2 separate regions of the Homo sapiens genome follow, and region 2 is reported to be linked to region 1. Evidence: microRNA targets listed by miRTarBase, many of them from high-throughput screens and not tested one by one. Region 1 holds a microRNA gene; the other region holds the end of a gene's coding sequence.

Region 1 (4,067 bases):
GGAGAGGGAGAAGGCCATGCCTCTTCCACTGGGCCCCATCCCTGGTTGCCATTCCTCCTTGGCTGATACAACCTTCAACTCTTGGTCTCTTGATGCCTCTAGCTGTTCCCTAAGGCCCTGCAACGTCTGTCCCGCAGCATTGTCCGCTCACGGGCACATAGCACCGCAGTTGGCATCTTTTCCGTCCTGCTTGTGTTTACTTCTGCCATTGCCAACATGGTAAGGGTCCAGTGGGAATTCTCCCACCTCTGCTCTGTGCCAAGCACTGTCCTGGACACTGGGAGTACAGCGGAGAAAAGGACATATTTTCTGCCCTCAGGGAGCCCCCTCCCAGAATAGGGGAAGGTTAACTCCGGTTCTCCTTCCTTGTTCTCCCAACCTCTTGTCATCCCTGAGTGAGTACTAAGGCCCATGGGGTATAAGGTACCTGGGCATAGCCCAGGTTAGGGTACATGGCTTCACCAGGTACCTTGCAACCCTTTCCCTCCTTGGTTACCCTGATATACCCCTCCACTTTTGCAGTTCACCTGTAACCACACCCCCATACGGAGCTGTGCAGCCCGGATGCTGAATTTAACACCTGCTGACATCACTGCCTGCCACCTGCAGCAGCTCAATTACTCTCTGGGCCTGGATGCTCCCCTGTGTGAGGGCACCATGCCCACCTGCAGCTTTCCTGAGGTGTTCGAGCAGTGCTCAGGCGGTGGGGGGGCTGTCCTGGCACAGACATTGGCCCTTCTGTGCCAGGCCTGGTGATGGGCGCTGGGGACCCAGGAACTCACCAGAGTCTCCCACACTAGGAGCAACCAGGGGCCCTGGTGTGTTGTAGGGGCTGGGCATGGAAGGTGGAGGATATGGGGGTTTGAGGGGTGTGGTGGGAAGGTTAGGTCAGGCAGGAGAGTGCAGGGCTCTCCCTGCCCAAGGGTGCTGTGGCCTCTGCCTTCACCCAACGCTGCCTCTGCCACCCCCGCAGTACTTCATCGGGAACATGCTGCTGAGTCTCTTGGCCAGCTCTGTCTTCCTGCACATCAGCAGCATCGGGAAGTTGGCCATGATCTTTGTCTTGGGGCTCATCTATTTGGTGCTGCTTCTGCTGGGTCCCCCAGCCACCATCTTTGACAACTATGACCTACTGCTTGGCGTCCATGGCTTGTGAGTTTATTCTCAGGTCCTTTAATACCCCAGGAGCTTCCCTCACCTTTCTAGGTCACTGTGAGCCTCTCTGGTGCCCATGCCCCTTGTGCCTTGGAATGCCACAACACCCCTGTGGGGGAAAGGGAGGAGATGGAGGAGCTCCCAGCATGTGACCCCAAATAGTTACCCCCAAGGAAACCCTAGTCCTGGGAAATCCTTGTGTCTTTAGGCTAGACATTAAAAAAAAAAATTCCCTCTTACATTTGCATGGTGCTTTCACATCCACCATCTTAACCACCTATAGGACATACAGCTGCTTGGTGGCAGGGCTCTGGTTAGGAACCAAAGCTTCTGATTCCTGCTTGGGGGCTTTGCCTGGGACACCACACTGGCTTTTCCTCTGCAAAACCCCATTCCTTTGATATGTGGCCATAGCTTGTTGTAGTAGAAAAAGCCTCTGGTCTCTGCTGGGTTTGAATCCCTGCTCTGCTGCTCATTAGCTGTGTGACTTTAGACAGGTGAGTTAGCTTCTCTGAGCCTCAATTTCTTCATCTGTAAAATGGCAATGTCACCTAAATCACAGGGTAGTTGTAAAGATTATAGTAACTAACATTTATGGAAGGCTGACTATATGGCAGGCACTGTGCTAAGCCTTTTACATACATTATTTAGATCTGATCCCTGTTGTACTGATGAGGAAGGAGGCTTAGAGAGTTAAGCGACTTGTCTCAGGTCACATAGCTGGTAAGTAGAGGAGTCTCTAAGAGCAGAGGTTTTCTTAACCTCTACTCTTAATGAGTTAATTAATGTAAGTAAAAGCCCTGGCCCAATGCCTGACTTACAGTATGTGCTCAGTAAATGCAGTCTCTTGTCTCCCCTTCCATGTGCCCACCCAGCAATCCAGGAAGCACTGATGACTTTGTCTCTTCTATCTTCTTACCAGGGCTTCTTCCAATGAGACCTTTGATGGGCTGGACTGGTAAGTGAGGGCTCCGAGGCAGCAAAGGGTAGAGCCATTAGATGCCTCCTTCAGACACCAAGCATGTCTCTGCTTATCCTTAGTCCAGCTGCAGGGAGGGTGGCCCTCAAATATATGACCCCTGTGATTCTGCTGGTGTTTGCGCTGGCGCTGTATCTGCATGCTCAGCAGGTGGAGTCGACTGCCCGCCTAGACTTCCTCTGGAAACTACAGGTGACTGTGTGGGCCTTTGGGGGAAGAGGAGGAACCTAGGGGCGGAGCCTGGGCCAGGCCAGAAATGTATCTTGTGCTAGCTGGCTAAGGCTCAGGCCACACCTAGGCCCACCCTGGTTCCATTCCTTCTCTGTGCCCATCCCTTACTCCCTGCCCCATCCTCTACCTGCCCCCTTTACCCCTTTGCCTGTTCTTTAGGCCTCATCTGTCTGGGCCTTTCTTTCTCTATGTGATTCCCTCTTATCCGCACTTCCAAGCCTTGGCCACCACACCTACCCCTTGTGAATGTCGGGCAATGGGTGATGGGTGTGGTGTCCACAGGCAACAGGGGAGAAGGAGGAGATGGAGGAGCTACAGGCATACAACCGGAGGCTGCTGCATAACATTCTGCCCAAGGACGTGGCGGCCCACTTCCTGGCCCGGGAGCGCCGCAATGATGAACTCTACTATCAGTCGTGTGAGTGTGTGGCTGTTATGTTTGCCTCCATTGCCAACTTCTCTGAGTTCTATGTGGAGCTGGAGGCAAACAATGAGGGTGTCGAGTGCCTGCGGCTGCTCAACGAGATCATCGCTGACTTTGATGAGGTACTTTTCCAGTTGGCTGGTGGTGGCAGAGAGTGGGGGGTACTTGGAGACCAGGGATTGGAATGGGTGAGTGGAACTGGGAAGAGAGAGAGAGATTTGATGGGACCCAGAGTCATCAGGGGTAAGGGTATGCACAGTGGAGGCAGAGGCAAGAACCCATGAAGGTGTCAGAGGCAGCAAGGGGGTCAGCCCTAGTGGGGCAGGGTCATCACTGTTGGGGAGCAGGGGAGGACTTGATCTGTAGGGGGATAGGATAGGTACCAGGTGGATGTCACTGAAGAAGAAGGCAATAGTCTGTGGACAGAACCTCATGAGACCAACCAAGCAAGATGGTCCTCTGAATAGAGAAAATTGAAGCAAAATGTGAGGTAGTGTCCTGAACATCCAGATCAGGAATGGGCTGTTCACTGTTCTGGAGGGAAGTCACTTGCTCACTCTGGGACTCAGTATCCCAAAAGGTAAGGATTGGAGAAATTGCTTAATATTGCACTTGTGGGTCTGTGTTCTGTGAGTGAGCTACTGGAGGGACCTTCTGAAGCTGTATGCCCAAGTCCTGCCTGGAGTCCTAGGCTGCCTGTTTTCCCAGCTCCTCAGTCTTACACTGATAGCAGCAGCTGGAAGGGGGCTCTTGAGACAGGGAAGTGGGGAAGGCAGCCAAGGCGTGGCAAGAAATGAGTGTTGGGGCAGGGCTGGGTCTGGGGTCTTTGCCTTGACAGCCAGGTCTCCTTGTGTTGTTCAGATTATCAGCGAGGAGCGGTTCCGGCAGCTGGAAAAGATCAAGACGATTGGTAGCACCTACATGGCTGCCTCAGGGCTGAACGCCAGCACCTACGATCAGGTGGGCCGCTCCCACATCACTGCCCTGGCTGACTACGCCATGCGGCTCATGGAGCAGATGAAGCACATCAATGAGCACTCCTTCAACAATTTCCAGATGAAGATTGGTAAGAGGGCTTTGTTGCTTGGCGGGTTTTCCCAGGACTTTTTCCAGGTGAAGCTGGGATTATAGGCTGGGGATGGGATCACAGATTTCCCATCAGGGCTCCTGTGGGGTTTTCTTCCCTCTGACCTCCTATATCAAGTCTGATATTAAGAACAGAGATCATTAGGCACTGTCCTATAAATTTTTGAGCATATTTTAATCCTGATACTATTA
Region 2 (4,054 bases), not on the chromosome of region 1:
AAACTTAATTATTGTCTTCTGTGTCTACTATGGATAAGCACTTGTGCACTATTTTTGCAATTTTTAGATGTAGGTGTCCACATATTTTTGAGACGGGGTCTCTGTCACCCAGGTTGGAGTGCAGTGGCGTGATCTTGGTTCACTGCAACCTCTGTCTCCCAGGCTCAAGCAGTCCTCCCACCTCAGCCTTCTGTGTAGCTGGGACCACAAATACGTGCCACCATGCCTGGCTAGTTTTTTGTAGAGAGGGTTTTGCCACGTTGCCCAAGCTGGTCTCAAACTCCTGGAATCAAGCAATCCGCCCACCTTGGCCTCCCGAAGTGCTGGGGTTACAGGTGTGAGCCACCACACCTGAGCCACATTTTTTGAGAAAATATACCCAGAAGTAACATACCAAGTTGGTGCACAACTAGGCAGAAAGGGATTCAGGGGAGGCAGTCTTGGGGCAGAGCCCATTTACAATGCCAAACCCATTCACATTCAACAGTTCTTAAAATTGACCAGGTTGTTAGTTGAATACAAGTGGTCAGCATGAACCAGTTTATTTGGAATAAATTACATTGAAAATTAAACATGTAGTCACACTGTACTGGCCTCATTTTCCAGAGGCTCTTTAAATATAGTTGTGATTCTCCAGGTTGTTACATTGAATATACGATAAACACGTTAGATTTTTCACAACACATCTCAGAAAAGCTTAAACTCCAAAGATCTTACCTGTTTGCTCCTTTCAAGAGTTATCAGTTTCTGGTTGACCTTTGATGGTTTTTAAGGAGTTTATGATAAACCTGAATATTTAGTATGATAGAGCATGAGCCAGATTAAATGCTTAACCTAATTTGCTGTACATATTTGCCAGTGGTTAAAAAATTTAAGGGTTTTTGGATTCTTGTGCGATGATGGCTTAAAAACTAGTAAAATAATGCCCAAGTGGCAGAGAAGGAGGACTCTCAGTACTGGGTTAGGAATTTTATTACTTAGGGGAGTTTATGGTAAACCAGCAAGTTAGAAAAGGGGGGCATGCTTTAAGCATAAGCTCTTAATGTGAAAGAGACAGTGAAGGTTAATTTGTGAACTGTGAGTACGAGATACTTTAAACAAAGTGAGAAAGAGAAAGCAAAACCTGAAAGATAAATTCCAGGTTTTTGTTATTCCTGTGGCTAACCTTTTTTTTTTTTTTCCCAAGCCCTTGATGTTAAAGAGAGGTTAATGAGTTGCCCAGTTGACATTAAAGAATTTTCCCTGGAGTTCTTGGGTCAGGGTGAATCAATGTGGCACAAAGGGGAAAAAACCCAGCCAAGTGATTGTTTTAAGTGACTTACTGTTTCTACATAGTTAGAGTAATAAAAACAGAATTGACTAGTTGTATGCGTGACCTTAGGTACATAGTTCTCAGAGGGAGATGTTAATACTAAAAAAATTCCTTGAAAATCATACCTCAAAACTGCCAACTTTGGGGTAGTGGGTGCAGCTGGGGCAAGGAGACTAGAGAAGAGTAAAGCAGAATTTTACTGTTCCCATTTGCCAGGCCAAATAGCAAATTGATTTCTCATCATATTTGCATTTACTCAAATTGACTAATTGTATTTTTACAGTATTTTGGAAACTTGTTCATTAGCAGTTAGATACTGAATTTAGCTTCAGACATAGGTGGACCTAGAATATAATCAAAACTGCCTTAATTTACTAAGGCTTTGTAACAGAAGAACGTCTCTTGTGACTGTTAAGGTCTAAATTGCTGGAGTGAGCAGACAAGGACAAATTAATGTATGCAGTGGGTGTTAAATGTTGACCTAAAGAAAGAATAGGTATAAATAGGTGCATATTTAAGTTTTCTTCCTCAGATGTTTAAAATACACTGAACAAGTCTCAAGAACAGAGTTCATTTCCCAAAGTGTCAAATTATCCAAGTCAGATCTAGTAATTAACCCTAGCCCAAAAGGGTGCTATATAAAACAATTTAAACTCATTCAGTATTCTGAATTGTTGCTTTACTTACAGTATAGCAACTTCTATTCACAGAGTTGAGTCTAGCTTTCCTTCATCCTGTGATCTTTCCATGAGATGAGGTTTTGGAAATTACTTTTATTTTTATTTTTATTATTTTTTTTTATTTTGAGAGACAGTCTTGCCCTGTCCCCCAGGCTGGAGTGCAATGGCACGATCTTGGCTCATTGCAACCTCTGCCTCTCGGGTTCAAGCGATTCTCCTGCCTCGGCCTCCTGAGTAGCTGGGATTACAGGTGCCCACCACCATGCCCGGCTAACTTTTGTATTTTTAGTAGAGATGGGGTTTTGCCATGTTGGCCAGGCTAGTCTCGAACTCCTAACCTCAGGTGATCCACCTGCCTTGGCCTCCCAAAGTGCTGGGATTACAGGCGGTGCCACCGTGCCTGGCCGGAAATTACATTATTTTAAAAAATCAGATCTAGTAAAAGATCACAAATTAGATATTCTATAGGTGATTTTTTGTTGTTAGAAAAATGAAGGGCTTGATCCTCTTTAAGAGTCTGTGTTGTAACTGGCTTAGACAAGCACTACTTACCCTATTGTGTTTTCTTTCCATTTTAGAACCACCCTGACCTAAAGGAGAAGGCACCTTATTAGAAGTGACAGAATATATATTATCTATCACTGACTACCCAGTTTAAAGAAGGGTGTTAAATCTCTGCTGTAGAGTCTAACAAAACAAAGTTTTGCTTTTGCTTTTTTTTTTTTTTTTGGACACAGTCTTGCTGTTGTCGCCTAGGCTGGAGTGCAGTGGCGCAATTTTGGCCTACTGTAACCTGTTTCCTGGGTTCAAACTTCTGCCTCAGCCTCCCAAGTAGCTGGGATTACAGGTGCCACTGTCACCACGCCTGGCTAATTTTTTGTATTTTTAGTAGAGACATGGTTTCACCATGTTGGCCAGGCTGGTCTCGAACTCCTCACCTCAGGTGATCTCCCCGCCTCGGCCTCCCAAAGTGCTGAGATTACAGGTGTGAGCCACAGCGTCCAGCCCCAGAGTTTTACTTCTTAAAAATAATTTATTGTACCACAAGTAGCTATTGGTAGAGATGAAAGCTAAAGCAGAATGATGGAATACAGTTGATGAAACTTTAAGAAGCAATGTAGCATGTAATCCTCATAGCTTACTGTCAGGATGAAGCCTTTATGTTTACATCCAAGAACTGAGTTCACTGATGTCAACACCTAAGGGAATGTTCTTTGAACCACACAGCAGAGACAATTGTCATCACCTTGGTTACAGCTGTATCTCAGATTGTCTTTCTATAATACAGGTATATCTCCTGTAAGTTACCAGCATATGGAACTGGGATGAATTTTTAAACTGTCTATCATGCAGACAGATCAGTTTAGCTAACAACTCTCTTGCCTTTCTTTAATGGTATGTGTTGTAAGTTTTTTGCTTTCCAAAACTTTCTTCTCTTCTGCCTTTGAAAAATGGCAATTGATAAGAGTAGAACCAGGGTGGAGAAGAAGCAACAACCCAGGAATATCAGTGGTTTCTTCTGCACAAGGAATAAGCAGACAGTGCACTCTGTATTTTCTTGGGTCTGACTGCATCTAGAACTACTGTTCTCAAAAGGGAAGCCCCTGCTGCTGATCACTTTGTTGTAAAATTGTATTGAGGATTTAGCTTTAAAATCAGATGTGAAGAATCCAAATCTGGGTTTAGATTTCTCTTCAGCCAGTTTGAATGCATAATAGCCTTTGATTCTGACTTTATCAATCAGGTATGCTGAAAAAGATAAGAAATTAACATTAATCACAAATGGACTATGAAGTATCTTTGAGGAAGAATTTAGTTTTCATTGAAACAAGCTAAAATTATGCCCATAATAAAGGTAGTGATTTTTATTAGAGGGTTTTTTTTGACATTTATTCTTTTATGATCTATGTAAAGGAGAAGGTGAAAATATGTATAATTTAAGTCTGAAAAATTTGTAGTGAAACTTGATCCATAAATAATCCAAAAACTCTTGGAGGAAAAAGCAAATTTAAGGAGCAGAGCAATGAAGGTTGTCACTTTTGTTTAAAGGGTCACAAGCAGA

The links. Region 1 holds the annotated microRNA hsa-miR-4701-5p (UUGGCCACCACACCUACCCCUU, at 2,586-2,607, shown strand). A microRNA usually pairs through its seed, bases 2 to 8, with sites in the 3' UTR of a target mRNA and lowers its output. Matches are read on the target gene's strand: a 7mer-m8 pairs with bases 2 to 8, a 7mer-A1 pairs with bases 2 to 7 and ends in A, and an 8mer does both.
Region 2: the mRNA of KLB is a reported target of hsa-miR-4701-5p. Seed matches in the 3' UTR shown: 7mer-A1 at 2,903-2,909 and 7mer-A1 at 2,303-2,309.

The regions. Positions count from the first base shown.
Region 1 is chr12:48,770,554-48,774,620 of GRCh38, reverse strand. It overlaps MIR4701 (microRNA 4701), which reads left to right and starts at 2,584; the gene lies at 2,584-2,646. ADCY6 (adenylate cyclase 6) reads left to right here. Exons shown (of 22, transcript NM_015270.5): 14 at 103-219; 15 at 523-681; 16 at 974-1,152; 17 at 2,078-2,113; 18 at 2,197-2,326; 19 at 2,648-2,911; 20 at 3,651-3,855. It also overlaps a transcript of SPMIP11 not described here.
Region 2 is chr4:39,447,988-39,452,041 of GRCh38, reverse strand. It overlaps KLB (klotho beta), which reads right to left. Exons shown (of 5, transcript NM_175737.4): 5 at 509-3,741. The coding sequence ends at 3,356. Among named protein-coding and RNA genes, the nearest start is that of RPL9, 8.9 kb to the left of the region's middle.